Regions from separate parts of the Homo sapiens genome. Here region 2 is linked to region 1. Evidence: fine-mapped expression QTL. A gene starts in region 1. The other region holds a variant in brackets. All regions are shown on one strand. Distances are from middle to middle.

Region 1 (9,061 bases):
AGTGACACCCAGATGTATCTTCCGGAGGAGCTCTCAAGCAGTTGCTTCAACAGGGCAAACAGCTGTGGTCTGTTTCAACATAATTTGATGTAATCAGGGTTAATTCTGATGATGTAGTAACTCTGAAGACTGTTTTTTAACTGGATTATTGTTGGGTCAACAATCATGTGGCATTACATTTAGTGGCTGAAACAAAAGCCAGAATTAAAACAGCTTCCCCTCAGCCCCCACCCACCCCTTCTAAATGACAGCCTCACCGGGAATGTAAGTTATGAGGCACATTTAACACAATTAACCAAAAAAGGAAAGTAGGTGCAGTCAAATTACCTGCAAGCATCTCCAAGGTCCAGTGTCAATCTAGAGTAAGAGCTGGAAACTTTGTTGTTTTTTCTTTTCCTAGAATGGTTAGAAAATATGTTGGCAGCAATCAGTATAATTTAATATTTTCATAACATTCTAGGAAAAAGCCCCGAGATTTTCCTCTGAAACTTTCCTGAACCAGACAAATGATTTTAGCAGTTCACAGTTCCTCTGTATTTTCCATGCATGTTTTCAAAATGATTATTGTAAGTGAACACTAAATTCACGGTGTGGCATACCAGGGCTGAAAGAGTGTGGTATACAAAGCTCTGAACACATCTGGCACTGTTTCTGAAGAGCAAGGTCTTTATCTTATTTTCATAGATTTGGCCATCATTGTTTATGGTCAGTCCACTTGCAGGGTCTGGGCTGCTCTACATGCACACATACTTATTTAGTCTCTTCCAGTTTTTAGTTTTGGCTAGCCTGAAACACAGCTAACGCCCATGACAAGGGCCATTCTTAATACAGTTCTGGAAAGCAGAATCTTCAAAAATAGATGGTTTGGGAAGCTGCCAAATGTGTTGGTTCTTCAAAATCTTTTAAATCCAATTGTGTGGTTCCAAAAAAGGTCTGACGTGTCCAATCCCCTCTGTAAATAAGCCTCCATTTATTTGCTTTCTGTTTTTGTGACTTAGATTATTAAAAAATTTGAAAAGCAAAGAAGCCACTTACCCTCCTACTGCATCTTATTTTATCAGGAATTTCCCATCTAAGTAATTCCTGATTGACATATATTCTGGGATATGTAGATGTGATTATAAGGTAATGAGACTTAAAAAGTAATGAGAATTCCTTCTGTAAGTCACACAGTATATTAATTTGACTTCTTTTAGTTGTGAAAGCAGATACTCATTTCAAACTCACTCACGATCCAATGGAGATGGTAAGTGAGTTATCTCCCGTGGAACCCATGGAAAAGTTGAATAATCTGGCCTCAGAAAGAGTAGCAACCAGGGAATAAACATGGCAAAAACCAGGCATCCATTTTGCATGTCTCCCTCACCTCCGAACATTTTGCCTTCGTTTCTTTCTCTGAAGACTGCTTTCTCTGTCTCTCTGGGTACATGGTTATACCCACTGGCTCCTAAGTTTATGTGTTCCTGGCTCAAGCAACCAGTCCAGACTCTCCAGTGTCCTCAACCCCAATTTCCCAAGAGAAGGTGAAACTGGTCTATTTGGGATCAGGTGTCCATCCCTACACCAATCAGCAAAGGAAGCTCTGGCCCCCAGGATGTCTGCTAGGGACCCACTGGCCAGGACAGGGGTAGGGGAATTGTCAGAAAAAGGACAGGTTTGATAACTAAGTAAGACACCTTGGAAGGTGTTTAATAGAGACACAAAAACCAATCTTGTTTCTTTCCCCTAGTATCCCTTTAAATTAGGAATATACTTAGAAAACCATATGTTTCTTTCTATTCAAATACAAAATATATTTCTATTCAAACACATGTTACTAGGGAATGGTTATTTATGTACAAGTTAGTCAAGTCTCAGCAGGGATTTTCTGAGAACCTACTACTTCAAGTTCAGCATAGGAATACCAAGATAAGACTAGGTTCTTCAGAATTTCAGGGTCTTTCTGGGGAGAGAAATAGGCAGGTATCTCCAGTAGTATTTGGGCAATGTTATAAGAGGTATGTTCAAAGGACTGTGGGAGCACTGAGAATTATGAACCAACTGTATGGGGACTGAAACTACATGAGGTTAGGTTTAATTTTGGGTAGCCCACAGATAGGCACAGAATAGACATAAGTTAACATTTGTTAAATTCGATGACATAAATAGTAGCTACCTTCAATTTGGAGGCAGTAAAATTGTCTAGATTAAGGGAGCAAGTTGGGGAAAACCACTAACTGAAAATCTGAGCAATTAAATTCATTTGGGACTAGCTTCTGAATTTCTTCTCAATTTAATACAATCATTCAACAATACTTACTGAGCATTTACTATGCACAGGCACAGGGCTAGGTGCTGGCGATGTGATGAACAGCATAGAGATGTTCTTCCGAATAAGTCTAAGTCACTGTATTCCAGAAGCAATGCCAGGAGGATGCCCTAGAAGTCACCTTCAGTAACAGACAGATAACTAAACTCATTACTACTTTTGATTCCTGCCTTTTGGTCCTGTGTTCAGGAAACAGCTCCAGGCAGATTTGTGCTGAAAGGGATAGTTTAAAATTTTATGAGATATTTCAGACACATAAGGAGGGAAAAGCTAGTTTTGGGAAATTTTTTTTTTAAGAAATATTTCCCTGTTGTCTGATGGACGTATTTCCCCCACCCTGTTTTTGGTCACCTTAATGATTCAATTGGTGGTTTCTAAATGAGTGCCCACTATGTGTCAGACACTCTCCAAGGCACTGCAGATATAAAAATGAATGCATTCTTATCCCTGCTGTCGCGGACCTCACATTCTGGCAGAGGAGACGAATGGCAGCATAAGACAACCGGTATTTGCATAAGGCGCTGAAGGAGCATAACGAAAGGAGAAAGTCTGGAAGCCATTGTCCAACCCTTGGTTTCCTGAAGTAAAAATGATTTCAACACTAACACGTGAAAATGCGGAAATCCTAGCTGCATTTTGGAGTGTCACCACTCTTGAAATAAAGCCTCATAGGTTCAGAAAATGTGATCAGAGCTGTTAATATTTTGATTCTGGGTGACTAAGAAGTGACAGGTGTGTAGCCTGAGAAAGCCACCCAAGCCCATTTACAGGCATGTGGAGACAAGCAATGTTGAGTCAGGGTGCAGGGTACACCCCAGCTCTATCGGCAGGACAGGTACCTGAGCAGGGGACTTTTAAAATCTTCTGTTGAGAGCTACTAACCCATCAGAAGAAAATCAGTCAAGAACTAAATGACAGTGAAACTTGACACAAAAATTTCCATATCGGATTTTTAAAAAAATGATTGTTGATCTCAACAAACAGCCCACTCCTACTTTTTGAGAAGCATTAACCAGCACAAGTTTGTACTTAGTAAACTAGATGTAAGTTGTTTTCAATACAATTGACATATCTGGCTGGGGGGTGGGGTGGAGAAAGGAAGGGGAAGCACCTGGATGTTGATACAGTACTAGGCATAGAAGGAACCAGAGTGGGAGATTAACACTTGCATAGAAAGAAGAAAACATTAGGAGAAGTGGTGGGGAGAAATGGAGTGAGGAAAAGAGATAAAAGTTGAGAGGTGTGGTAGTTTCTACACTGCAAGGGTTCCAAGGGGTATCACTGCAGGCTGGCCTTCCCATCCTTGATAGAGACACATAAAAACCAGCTCAAGCATGCAGAGAAAACAGGTAACTTCTTCAATGAGCAGATTTGTATAATTATTACTTACCGTTTAGTGTAAAAATATTAAAATCTCACTGCAGGTTTCTCAGTACAGAATTAAAATACTTACACTAGAATTACTCAGGGTGACTGTTTAAAACAATGTAAATTGTGAGCTAGTTCCATCACAGACCTACTGAATCAGATCTTCTGGTGGGAGTAAGATAATGTGAATTTTTAATACGCTCCGCAGTGATTCACATACACAGTAAACTTTGACAAGACTGTACAGAATGGGAGTCTCTGAGAGCAGGGAGTATGTCCTATTTGTCTCAGCACTCATAGAATCTAGCACGGGGATTGGGAGAGTGAGAGCTCAATAAAAGTTTATTGAACTAAACTGAATACACCTAATATACCTAAGAGTCTTTAAAGCAAAAGTCACTCAATTCCACTACCCTGTAATCCATTTTTTCCATATTCTAGTCTATGTACACAGGTTTTACACTGTTGTAATTGCAAACTCACCATTTTAGATTGTATTTTTCAATATATTTTCTCTTACAATTTTTAATGGCTGTAAAACATTCCACCCAACATGAATAAGTATCTCTGTTCATATAGATTTTGAGTTTTGAAAAGGTTTTCCTTAGGGGACCTTACATTTGTGCAGTGCTTGTCAGTTTATGAAACCCTTTCACACAATCTTCATTGCTTTCACAACACTCTGTAAGATAAGCATTATCCTCATTTTGCAGCTGGGTATACAGACTCAAAGATTAATTAACTTGCTCAAGCTTCTACACCTAGTAAGTGGAATGTCAGATTAAACCAGGATCTTCTCACTATGCATTTAATGCCCTTTCCAAGGCACCAAATAATTGGACCCAACAGTTTCCTGATGCAAAAACCTGTAATTTAAAATGTGGCAGATGGAAATTACATTTAAAGAGAACATTGGTCAGCTATATCCTAACTATATAGGAATCAGCTCCTGCCTCTTGGGGTATGGCAAAGAAAATGCATATATTAGTTGACAACTTCTGTGTAAGAACTTACTGTTCTTCAGCAATGCCTCATAACGCTGTCTGTATACGATCCAAGCCCATTTCTGCAATCCTCACATGAAGGGAGTTGGGACTGTCCCTGAACACTCTGACACTGTAATTAAAGTTCTTCGGCAACCACCACAGGCTGTAAGGCAGATAGGAAGGAGGCAGTGGAGACTTGAAAGCTCTTCTAAGATTGGTATCACAGGAAACTTGGGTAGCAGCTGAGTGAACAGGAGAGGGAAGCTTTTATGTACCAATAGAAATGCCCATTATAAGGACACACGACCTGATGAATAACAGAGGGGTGCAGCACTTCAGGGAAGGACAGACAGTCCACCTGAGCAGTTAGAGGTTCTATACTGGAAAACAGGAGGAGTTGTGTTTCTATTTTATTCCATTTGCATGATACAGAGAGACAGGTTTCCTTATTCTCAGGTAGAAGTTTCTAACAACCAGAGCTCTCTGAGGAGAGAAAAACTTCTTGGCTGGGTGTGGTGGCTCAAACTTGTAATCCCAGCACTTTGGGAGGCTGAGGGAAGCGGACTACTTGAGCCCATGAGTTTAAGACCAGCCTGGGCAACAAAGTGAGACCCTGTCTCTATAAAAAATTAGCTAGATGTGGTGGCACATACCTGTGATCCCAGCTACATGGGAGGCTGAGGATTGCTTGGGCCCAGGAGGTCGAGGCTGCATTGAGCCATGTACACATCACTGCACTTAAGCCTGAGCGACAAAGCAAGACCGTTTCCAAAAAATAAGGCTAGGCACAGTGGCTCATGCCTGTAATCCCTGCCCTTTCAGAGGCCAAAGTGGGAGGACTGCTTGAGCCCAGGAGTTCAAGACCAGCCTGGGCAACATGGCAAAACCCTGTCTCTACAAAAAATACAAAAATTAGCTGGGTGTGGTGGCTTGTGCCTGTGGTCCCAGCTACGTGGGAGGCTGAGGCAGAAGGATCACTTGAGCCTGGGAGGCTGAGGCTGCAGTGAGCTGTGATCACGTCACTGCACTCTAGCCTGAGTGAGAGAGTAAGACCCTGTCTCTAAATAAATAAATAAATAAATAAATAAATAAAAGATCTCTATTAAGATAGTGAGTTCCTATTCAGTGAAGCTACAATAGGTAAATTACTAGGAATCAGGAGAAATACAGAGGGGAGTAGTTCATATATCATAAACGGGAAGAATTATCTTCTTTCCAAGATTTTTCAAAACTAGGTTCCTAGGAAAATGGCAAACCAGCAATTCTTATTGAGCTAGTGTGTAGAGAAAGTTATGAATCAAAGAATCACAGTTGTAGATGGCTCAGGTTCGGCAAAATACAGTTCCAGCTGTGTACATGGGCACCTGTTGCAGAAAAAAAACCTTTGTTACACAGGCTCACCATGTATCTATTTTCAGATTATTACCTTGAAAAATCAAAGGTCTGTGACTTCGAGGAAGATATTAATAATTCCTATCAAAGTTTCTTTCATGTATCTTTCTATCCACAATTCAAAGATGATCCTAAAAGGAAGGTGGCAAATGTGAGTATAAACTGATAACAAATTGAGGCACAATGAGCTTAAGTACATTGCTGGGTCTAGGATCCTTTACCCCATTTTTAGTGTTTCTCTTTACTCCAATGTATTTGAGATCAAACATCATCTTCCTTCACATTCTCCTGTCCCTTCACCCTGGGTAGAACAAGGTCAAGGTGAGTATTTTGCGACACATTCAGTAAACTCTGGGGCTTAAGATGCAAGATTCTTTGGTTATTAGGTTTTATGTTTTTTGGTTTCTCTGGAAGCTGAGGGCAGTGAATTTTATTTGCAGTCTTTCTCTCAGTATTAGGAACTTTCGATTTTTTTTTTTTTTTTTTTTGAGACAGAGTCTCGCTCTTTTGCCTAGGCTGGAGTGCAGTGGTGTGATCTCGGCTGACTGCAAGTTCCGCCTCCCGGGTTCATGCCATTCTCCTGCCTCAGCCTCCTGAGTAAGCTGGGACTACAGGCGCCTGCCACCACACCCGGCTAATTTTTTTTTTTTTTTTTTTTTTTTTTTTTTTGTAGAGACAGGGTTTCACCGTGTTAGCCAGGATGGTCTCAATCTCCTGACCTTGTGATCTGCCGGCCTTGGCCTCCCAAAAGGAACTTTGAATTTTTATAACAAATAAACCAAATAAATTTCATGACCAGTAAGATACAAAGGAACAAAGTCCACAATGTATTGTCTTGATAACTAAGAAAATAAGATACATGAAACATGTTTGTGAACTGTAAAGCAATGCCTAAATAATAGTCATGTTATTAGTAACAATTATGAACAGTAAAGGTATAGCAGAAAATTTTTGAAAAGTCATGAGCTATGTTAATTCAATGACCAGCTGCCTGAATGACAGTTTAAAAACCACCTAAACTCCTGGTGTCTTCTTTATAAAGGTCCCCCAGAAACTATCCAGTGTGCTGATAATGGCTAGAAATTCGCTGGACTCCATTTATGGTAATGCTGGGTCCAAACTGCACAACAGCTAACTGGAGCCTTAGTTGATCACAGGCCAATCTAGGGCTCCTGGCAACAGTAGAATGTCCAAGTTCAGGGAGGGATGCTGACCATGACTTAAAATACTTTCTTACAAAAGCCATACTAAATCATTTCAATACAGTGATTAAGGTTGCTTTGGGCCCTTTTCTTTTTCTTTTTTTTTTTTTTTGAGATGGAGTCTTGCTCTGCTGCCCCCCGCTGGAGTGCAATGGCACCATCTCGGCTCACTGAAACCTCCGCCTCCCAAGTTCCAGCAATTCTCCTGCCTCAGCCTCCCAAGGAGCTGGGATTACAGGAGCCTACCACCACAGCTAGCTAATTTTTGTATTTTTAGTAGAGATGGGTTTCATCATGTTAGTCAGGCTGGTCTCGAACTCCTGACCTCAGGTGATCCGCCTGTCTTGGCCTCCCAAAGTGCTGGGGTTACAGGTATGAGCCACCGTGCCCGGCCCGCTTTCTGCCCTTTTCTTAACGCTTTTACTATCTTTTAATTCTGAAGATTAACTGGGGAGAAATTATAATCAGATGTTACTCTCACCTGTTTTTTTAATTATACATAGATTGCAGACTGAATACAAATATTGATCAGAAGCCAAAACACCCCACACATTACTTATCAATCAACCCAGGCCAATCTGTCTTTCAACTGTACATTTTTGTGTTCTTGCCTCACCACTTAGTAAAATAAACATAAGAATAAATAGCAATCCAATCCAAATAAGCATCTCTCATCTATAATTATCTGAAGCAACGGATTTAAAGATGGGTAGAGTTAATCCACCTCACCAAGTACATCTTCAATGCCTGTTCAGTCATGCTTCAATGTCTACATTCAATTTATAGAGAATATGAATATATAACATTGTAGAGGGAGGCTTCTGGCAGATCCAGTCTGACAAGAACAAAAGGTCAAATAGTTCTTTTGCTATTCTGTGACAGTTGAAGAGTCTCTGGGTTGGAGAGTTATGTCTAGATCTGGAATGGATCACTCACACAATTAAGTTCTTGTCAGACCTAAAAACATGACAGCACAACTTTCCCCAGGCAAAAGGACAGCCAGATGGAAAGCAACTATTTTTCTCAACCTATCTCAAAATTTGAAATAAGAATGAGAATAATGGAAAAAACCTTTCTAAGTTTTAGAATATACTTCTACTTTGGTTGCTGGGGTTCTTATTTTCAGGTGGCATTTGGAAATCTTAGGAAAACATAATCTGATTTCTTTCCTCATTGGAAATGGGTTGCTCAAGTGAAAAACTAACCCTCTTATCACCTTTTAACTCAGAAACTGAGCACTAAAAGCTATTATGGTGTAGACAGTACTCAACTATTGAATCCATACGTTTATTCATTATACACTGACTTATACAACACTGTTTGCAATGTAGAATTTAGATATTCATATCTCAGCTGATGAGTAAACATTTTGAGTTTTTTCCTGCTGATGCTGCCTGCAAGCAACAGTTCAGTTTTGGCATTTTCATCATCTTTGTCTGACTTGAATTTTTGTTTTTGTTCAATTATTGGCAAAATAGAAGTATTGCACCAAAGACAAATTATTAGGCTTGCTATAGGTGGCAAGTATTTGGCTTCAACCAGATATTCATTGTGTGATCAACTATCAAGGAAAAGAATGTATAAAGTTTTGGAAATACATTGGTGAAAACACTATCAAAAAGGCAAGATGCCTTGAGAAGGACCTTTCCTCCTTCCACATATACAGTATATGAACACATTTAAGACTACTGTTCAACTTTCAGCGATGTGACTTCGTTATACATTTTGGAGACTTAATATGTACTAAAATAGGGGACTACATATTGCCTAAAGGTTAGACTCTAAATCAATTATTAGTGACTAAG
Region 2 (9,061 bases), 220 kb after region 1:
TTTAGATTCTTGATTTGAGAACATACTCTTTCAATTATCTTAAAATTGTGAAAACTTATTTTATGACCCAGGATGTGGTTTATCCTGGTGAATGTTTCACGTGCACTTGAAAAGAATGTGCATTTGGCTGTTGTTGGGCAGAGTATTATATAAGTGTTAATTAAATCTAGTTGGTTGATGGTTTAGTACAGTTCTTCTATATCCTTGCTGATTTTCTGTCCATTAATTCTATTGATTACTAAAAATGGCATGTGGAACTCTCCAACTATAATTGTGGATTTGTTGATTTTTTCTTTCAGTTCTGTCAGTTTTCGCTTCATGCATTTTGAACCTCTGTTGTTAAATGCATGCACATCTAAGTTTGTTGCATCTTCTTGGTGAATTGACCCTTTTATCGTGATAATTTATCTCTGGTAATTTGCTTTGAAGTCTGCTTTGTTTGATATTAATAATCACTGTGGCTTTTTGATTAATGTTTTCACAGTATTTTTATCATTTTTCTTTTTTTTTTGAGATGGAGTCTTGCTCTGTCACCCAGGCTGGAGTGTAGTGGCATGATCTCGGCTCAGTGCAACCTCCGTCTCCCAGGTTCAAGCGATTTTCCTGCCTCAGACTCCTGAGTAGCTGGGATTACAGGTGCCCACCACCATGACTGGCTAATTTTTGTATTTTCAGTAGAGACGGGGTTTCACCATGTTGGCCAGGCTGGTCTCAATCTCCTGACCTCGCGATCTGCTCGCCTTGGCCTCCCAAAGTGCTGAAATTACAGGTGCGAGCCACGGTACTAGGCCATCATTTTACTTTTAACTTATGCATAGCTTTATATTTAAGATGATTTTTAAAATACAACATATAGTTGGGTCATATATTTTTATCCTGATATCTCTTTTAGTTGATGTGTTTAAATCATTTGTATTTATTGTAATTATTGACATCTTTGTATTTAGGCCTTCTATTTTGTTATTTGCTTTTTCTTTGTTTTTCATTTTCTGTCTTCTTTTGGGTTCTTTGAACATTTTTTTCTTGTATTTAAATTATTGTGTTTTTACTATATGTCTTTTAGTCATTACTCGAGATTGGAATAGATGTTCTCAATTTTTTGCTCAGAAATAATAAGAAATATTCACTACTTCAAGTGGAATGTAGAAAGATTATTATGTAGTTCTTTTTACCCTCCCTCCTCTGTATTGAAACCCTTTGAGACTCTTTTACTTTCAGACTCTTTTACTTTCAACAATCAAACATATTTTAAAGTACTTAAGAGAAGAATAATCTGTCATGTTTACACAATTATCATTTTTTGTTGCTCTTTTCCAGCTCCTGATGTTCCAAGAGTTCTGTCCAGTTATCATTTCCTTTGTCTGAAGAACTTCCCTGAGCAGTTGTTGCAGAGCTGATTGCTGATGAAAAATTCTCTTAGTTTTACTTCATTTGTGAATTCTTACTTTTACCTTCATTCCTAAAGGTTATTTTCACTGGACTTAGAATTCTGAGTTGACATTTGTTTTCTCTGAGCACTTTAGAATGTTCTGTCTTCTGGCTTTCATGGGTTTTGATGCAAAGTTCACAGTCACTTGAATCATTGTTTCCGTATAAGTAATGTGTTATTTTTTTCCGGACATTCTCTTTTTTTTTCTTTTGCTTTTAATTTCAGTAGTTTGGTTATAATGTCTAGGAATGAATTTCGTTGAATTTGTCTTGCTTGGAGTTTCCGGGGCTTCCTGAATCTGTAAGTTTATGTTTTTCTCCAAATTCGGAAAGTTTTCAGTTTTTATTTCTGTAAGCATGTTTTCTGCACTGCACTGTCTCTTCTCTTTCTCTGACTCAAATGGCACAATTAGACATTTTCATGTGGTCCCATACATCCCTGAGGCTGTATTCATTGTTTCCAGTCTTTTTTCCTCTGTGTTGTTTAAATTGGCTATTTTAAAATGTCTGTCTTCAAGCTGATTCATTCTTTTTCTGTCATCTCCATTCTGCCATATTGAGCCCATCCAGTGAATGTTTAAACTTTTGGTCATTGTGTTTTTTTAGTTGTCAGATTTTCATTTGGTTTTTCTTTATATATTTTATTTCTTTTCTGAGACTTCATACCTTTCATTTGTTTCAAGTATGTTCCTTCTCACTTTTGGAGCACTTTTATATTGCTGCTTTAGTCTTTCATAGATAAGGTCAACATATGTGTCATCTCAGTATTGGCTAAGATTTTCCTCATAGGCCAAGTGTCTTGACTACTTCAAATGTTATAACACTGGATCTTAATTCTATGGAGAGTTTTTTTTTTTTTTTTTTTTTGCAAGCATTTGACTAGATTGGGTTCAGAACATGTTTTGACCAACCTTCTATAGATTGTGGTTTCAATGTCTGCTTGGTTTTCCAAGACACTGTCAGGCTATTCAAATCTGTTCTGCATGTGTGCCACCCAATGGGCAGTCTGGGACCAGAGCCACGGACTCTTTTCTGAGTTCAGTTCTCAAAGTTTATGGCATACTGCGTAGGATCAGATCTATGCATGCGATGCTCAGGGATGAGTCTGGGCATTCACAAACGACTTTACCACTGTCTTGAGCTTCTCCATCATCACCATCTCCCTTGGTATTTTTCATTGCCCTGAGGCCCACATTTTAGGTTTTCCAGCCAGAAATCTCAGGCTTTATTTGCCTCTCTCTGACACACACTTGCTGCAGCTACTGCACCTGCATCTAGGACCAATTGGTGAAAGGACAGAGAGAAAATGTAGTGGAGGTTCACCCATACTCTTGACACCCCCGCTCCTCCAATCAGAGAGAAGCTTCCCCCATGTCTATGGGCCTCCGCTGTTAATGCTGCCACTCTCAGGGGGCCCCTTCCCACTCCTCGAGGTGAAATAGAGGTTTCTTTTGGATGCGCACCTCTGGACTTTCAACTACCTGAGTCAAGGCGTGGGGATACCAGAGTGGAAAAGGGAGGTGAATTCTGCCAGTTCAGTGGCCCTCCAAATTTTGTTCTTCTCCAATCTGGCTGCCACTATTTGCTTTTCGGCTCCACATAGCTGCTCTATGCAGCCTGTGCAGGTTCTCTAACTGCTCCACTTACTTGGATATTTTACTTATTTAAAGAAGAGTTCCAGTTAATGAAGGAATAATAGACTAAGAAGTCAGCATTTTTTTATTTAACGTCACCAAATCTTATCACTAGAAGTAGAATAATCAAACACTATGTGTCCCCCATTAGATGTAATAGAAAGTACCTATGAGTTAGTCTTGCTTAAAACAATTGAACCTGAATTTAATTAAGCCTTTAGTGCTACATGCCAGCTTCTAGGAATTATGAGGCCTGAGAACAAGTAAAGTGACACCATGAAGAACTAGCCGCTAAATCCAGGTTGTGAGATATCCTGGAGTACAAATAACCTTTTTCTTTAATAAATAAATAGCATTAAAAAGAAGG[G/A]AAAACTATTATAGAATGGAGAGACTTCAGAAACACAACACATAAAGGGGGGATAAGTAATAGTACTCACGAGATTCTTAAGATTCAATTAGAAGAGCAATGTGAAGTGCTTTTCACAGTGCCTGGCAAATGGTCAATGGAAATGATTACTACCTTGTGCCACCTCTCAGAGTCTCAGTCTCCTTTTGTTTGTAACACACTAGGAGATGACAGCCTCCCCCTGTCTTAACAGTTAAGGAATTCAGCCACCTTAGTCCTCCATCCCTCTGCACCTGGTCAAGAAGGTGGCCTTGGCAGTATCTGCTGCAGTGTGCACAGTTGGCCGGTAGATGGCAGCTCAGGCCAGTTTATCTGGAGCCTTGGACCCAGGAAGAGCTAGTTCTGTTTTTGCTGCAAGAGGCTAGGTCCTGCTTGACCACCCATCAGACAGTATTCACCTTCTCTTCCTAGGTAGGAGGGATAAAGCTAAAGGAAGAGAATCGGTGGAGCTTTTTAGATATAATAAGGGCTAGCAGTTTGCTGAGAATTCCTTATCTGCTGGGCAGAGAGGTATTCTTCAGACCCCATTAGACCAGGGCTTGGGCACTGCCTGGCCAGCTGTCCCCAAACTCTGTTTCTCATCCCGTGAGTCCCAGTGCCTGCTGCCTCATCCTGAATCACTGGTGTGCAGGTACAACCTGGCTTAGCTTCTCTTCCCACCAGACTGAGGGAATTAACACCTACACACTCATCCACACCTGGTGTAAGATGTCCTTGAGGGAAAGTTTGCAGAATGAGTAAATAAGTGAATGCCTTATGGATCTTCAGTTATATATCTCTCTTCCTAAGTAGACCAGTAAATTCCAGGACAGGGTGTACACATTTTCTTTTTGTCTCAGCCTAGGAGGGAGTCTGGGTAGTGATGAATCGTGCAAGCCTGGAACTAGGTTGCTCAGCTTCAACTCCCAGTTCCATCTGCTTGCTACCTCACATGCCCTTGGCAAGTGCCTGCCTCTCCGCCTGAAAATTGGATACTAACAGTACCTCTCTTGTTGTACTGTGGTGAGTAATAAATGAGCAAATGCATTCAAAGTGCCTAGGAAACTGCTTGACACATTGTAGGCACCCAGTACATGTTAATTGCCATCTGAAGCTTTCCTTGCAGTGGGAAAGATTTAATGAACTTACAAAAATGCATTCAAGGAAGAAGTGTAAAAGGCCTAGTGTGGTTGTCTGATAGAGGGAATGGCTCTCAAGAAATAGCTCCTTCTCCTCCTCCTTGTTCTGCTTGTTATTGCTGTTAGCATCATTGATTGTTTAAAGATGCCTAAGTTAAATCTCTCCAAGCCCCATGAGTCGTGAGTGCTGTTTTGTCCACCTTTTTCCAACCTCAGGCACAGCAGCAGCCTCTGTAGTTGTCTGTATGGTGCTGGGGGCACCACATTCAGAACTGAAGGATCCTCTTCACATTGGCCCAGGGAGCAGAGGGAAGGTAGGGACTGCTAGAGCTAATTTTCCTGCTTTTCCTTTCTGGTGTGAGAGTGTGAGGTGCTTTTAGGGCATCATCTGAGAGTCATTGCTGAACCTTGGGACTGTTGTACAGGTCGAAAGGGTTCTCCTATGGAGGTCGTCTGAACTCTAGGAAGTACAGGAGCAGGACAAGGGATGAGCATGATCTTACCTGATCTCACCCATGTTTTTCTGCCTATCAATTTGGAGGAATGGGAAAGTGTGACAGGTGGCCACTAGGTGGCGTTATCAATGTGAAGAAATCAGGGGTGTGTTAATACATCACCTGTCCTGTACAGTAGAGTGGAAGAGCAGATAAACGCCTAGCTGGAGAAAATAAAGCTTCTCATATAAATGCTTCCCAGCCATCTGGCAAGATTTTGGGTGGAAATGGAGACTAACCCAGGAGAATGTGCATGGTGTGTGCATGAATATTTAAGAAAACCAGAGGAGGAGGAGGAAAAGTCAAGTCTACCTGATTGGCCTCTGCCCACCTGTTCAGCCCTAACTCTTAAGGCCCCTCCCCTGGCTCCCCCACGATATGCCAAGCCACCCGCAGGACACATTGGTACCTTAACTCTACGACACCCTCCACCTGGAATGCTCTTCTTCATTTCTTTCTTTGAACAGTTAAGGGGTTGCCTTCCTCTAGAAGCCTCTCCTGATTTATCCTCCCCTAGGCAGAACAGGTTTGTAGTTTCTTTGTGCCCCACAGTCTTTACCTGTGCTCCAAGTCTTTGCCACTTAATGGACTTAGATGTTTACCACTGAGTGGGGGTTTCCTGGCTTGGAGCTGGTGGGAAGGTCTCGGCTGGTTCTATCCAGTCCTGACCCAACATGTATGGAAGGGCTTTCCTGCCCACAGCTTCCCCACCCATTTGGGGGGCTCCAGGGCTCATCCTCTGCCTCAGGTTCTTGAGAATGTCCTAGAATGCTGAAAGTTTGTTCACACTGGGTAAGCAGTGTGGACAGGGCTGCCTCCATAACTTGCACAGCCCAGTACAAAGTGAAAACACAGGACCTTGTTCAAAAATTAAGTGTTTCAAGATGGCAACAGCAGAGCATTAAACCAAGAGTGGGCCCTAAGCGCAGGACCCTGTGTGACTACACAGGTCGCACGCCTTTGGAGCCAGCCCTAAATTTGGAGTTGAGCGAAGTCTCAGGTGAGCCTTGTGCCTGTGGATGGGTGACTTTCTGGGCACTGGAAAGGTGGTTGTCCATCTTCAGATGTCAATGTATGAAGCCTGTCACATCAGAAACTCCCTCACTCCTGAGCTTTAAGATGTAAGATCGATAGCCTAGAACTTGGAGTTAGGTAAATCTGGACTGATGCTGATTCTATCATTTAATAGCACAAACCATCTCTGGGTCTTATAAAGCTCATCTGCAAAATGGAAGGTAATAATACCTACCATGAATTTTGTTGTAGGTTCAAATGAGATTAAATGTAGGAAGTACTGGGTCTGCAGCCCACACCTATCGTGTCTACTGAGCCACACTGCTTGTCCTCAAAAGCATCTGATTAGAGAGAACAGGGCAGATGTTGGGCCTAACAGTTGGGTGGCACTTGCTCAGTGAGGTGGGTCACCATGTGATGAAGCCCCAGTGAGCTCCTCCTGAGCTCTGTGGTCTCAGGCAGCATCAGCTGAGTCAGGCAAGAACTGATGGGGGGAACTAGGGAGACCTGGAGCAGCTCTCAGATAACAACATCACCATGGGGAGATCCATTTATCATTTATCTAACAAACCTGTGTACAAGGTTCCTGTGCCAGGTACCAGGGATACGGTGGTAAACCAAATAGGTGGGGTCCCCCCACCCCGCGTCAGCTTTAATGCACGTGATTATTGTGTCCTGTTCTCTTGGATGCATCCTTTGCTAGCCAATAAGCAACCAGCATTTACTAGGTGCCTACTGCGGCGTAGGATATGAGATTTCAGTAGATGCTGTGAGACTCCTTCAACCCTCTTGGATGGAAATGAATGAAGCCTGTGTGCTTTCATTCCCAGCAGCTAACACCTGGGAGTCTTTGTAGGCAGGCTGTCCTCAGGCTGCCAGAGCTCATTTTGCCTGAGTGCACGGAGAGCCAGAAGTGCCTGGGTAAAGACAGTCCCAGGAGCAGCCCTTAACTGATGACTGGCAGGTGCAGAGGTGTCAAAAGCCCAGCTGCCTGCCCCCAGGGGGAAAACTCCCAGGTGTGACTTGTTATGTTTCCACAACTCTCCTGCAGGACTTAGCCAAAATTATTCTCTTGGAACTTTGCTGGATTTTCACACCCTTGATCGGCCCTCCCTATTTCCTCTCCCTCATCTCTATTTGTGTACCCATTTTCCCTGGGACCACTTCCTAGTAACCTACTTTCAGACACATCCTTATCTCAGGATCTGTTTATGGGGAACTCCCTGACCCACAACAGAAAGAGGAGAAAAAAGGAGGTAGCAATTGTTCCTGGTCTTTGTGTTACTACAAACAGTGAAGCAATGGGCCAGGAGTCAGTCATTATGAATACTAAAGTACTACTTGGCAAATTATTTTTGCTATAAATTAGCATGCCTTCAGAATTGTCCCTGTAACGTGATCTTTCTCTTTCTTGCTTGCATTCTGAGATGCTTTATGAGTGGGGGAAAAAGAAGAGGTGTTCCTGCGTGCTGGGATTTGCAGATCACCGCCACCCACGTCATCGCAAATCTAGGCATACCTATGGGAGTGGGTCCTACATCAAACATCAACCATTGTGGGTTTTGCAGTGTGAAAAAAGTGGAGACATGCTGGATTGGAGCCCCAGGAAATTTTGGCTTCATGCTTACTGGACTTGGTTTCCAGAAGTGAGGCTCGGAGGCCCAGGCTCCCCCAGGTCCACATGAAAAACACACTTTCCTCTCACCTGATCTTTTCTCACTAAATCCACCTCTTCCAGGAAATTTTCTCGGGTTCCTTCCTCTCTTCACTCAGCCCTCCCTGAGTTCTCCTTTGGTACCGTGGAAAGCAGGTTTTGTTGGAGCTACTTTCTTAGCACTTGGGTACTCCCCCTCTCTCCACCCCCAAGCCAGCTGGAGGCGCTGAGTTTTTAGCCCAGATCACAGGCTGATAGAGCACATTAGGAACCTTAGCCATGGGCAGGACGTGGGGGCTGGGGCTGGTCCTGCTGTCACAGAATCATGGCTATGGGCAGGTGATGAGATTGTGTCCCCCAGAGCTTGGTTCTCCCCACCACCAAACCCATGTGAGTCGAGTGTGGACACCAGGGCACTTGTGTCCATCTCACTGCCACGTTATCACCTTGCCCTGCTTGTTCCTCTAGCCCCTCTGCCTAGACTGACACCTCCAGGGTCTGGACCAGACTCTTGGGTGTTGATGGGATTCTGCTGCCAACAGAATTCTGCTCCTGTACCATCCAGTCTGCACCCTCACACTCCGTAGTGTTGGAGCCCTGGCTGCTGTAAAACTGGCAATGTCTCAGACGCCAGACTGAGCTCAAGCTAATGGAGCCTCTTGAGTCCACTGGGTGGGCCTCAGGCCACCTCTCTGAGATTTCTGGGTTCTAGCAAGCTTGGATGCCGAGGCTTCTGGAATAGTGACAGAGAGCACATGCTCCTTAGTATCACAGAGTCTGTTTTCTGAATCTTTCTAGACTCCCTGATTGAGTGGTGATGCTTATCAGCAAAGGGTCCTGTCTTACACCTTCAGGTTTTCTGAGGCTGCTTAGGCTGGGATCTTGTATATATGAAGTGCTCATTAAATGGCTGTTGACTGATTGTAATTCCTCCTCCAGGCCTTGTCAAGGGCCTGGCTATGGTGTTTATTCATACAGTCATCCATTCTCTACTCATCCATTTACTCACTCATATAATAAATATCCGAATCTGAAAGAATGACCCCATTTCCTCTATTCTCATATCATAGGTTGTTACCCTAAGAACTTAGATATTCATCAGAAGGAATTTCAAAGCTCTACTGCGTCTTGGCCCAGGTAACGGGTACAATTCCTAACTCTGGTAGTCCTGGGAGTGGGCTTATTTTGAAAGCTCTACATACAATGGCAGCTTCTGACGTTCTTTGGGACAGGATGGGCTTGCAGATTACAGGGCAGATAGGAGAATGCTTCTGTTCTTCTCCTTGGGTTTAAGGCTGCATTGCTCCTGAGAA

Alleles and levels. Positions count from the first base shown, and alleles are read on the strand shown. Sizes are in standard deviations (SD) of each study's normalised expression.
With allele A in place of G in region 2, the expression in sigmoid colon of the gene that starts at base 4,827 in region 1 is lower (moderate effect, 0.65 SD a copy in GTEx).

Evidence for each region.
Region 2: its variant is fine-mapped to the expression of LINC02728 in sigmoid colon (GTEx, PIP above 0.99).

Annotation. Positions count from the first base shown.
Region 1 is chr11:78,425,010-78,434,070 of GRCh38, forward strand. It overlaps LINC02728 (long intergenic non-protein coding RNA 2728), which reads right to left and starts at 4,827. Exons shown (of 4, transcript NR_120564.1): 1 at 4,691-4,827; 2 at 2,300-2,521; 3 at 328-396; 4 at 1-186. RefSeq lists a silencer at 1,535-1,700 and an enhancer at 2,106-2,305.
Region 2 is chr11:78,641,642-78,650,702 of GRCh38, forward strand. No RefSeq gene overlaps it. Among named protein-coding and RNA genes, the nearest start is that of NARS2, 71 kb to the left of the region's middle. The variant G/A (reference allele first, on the strand shown) is at 3,430.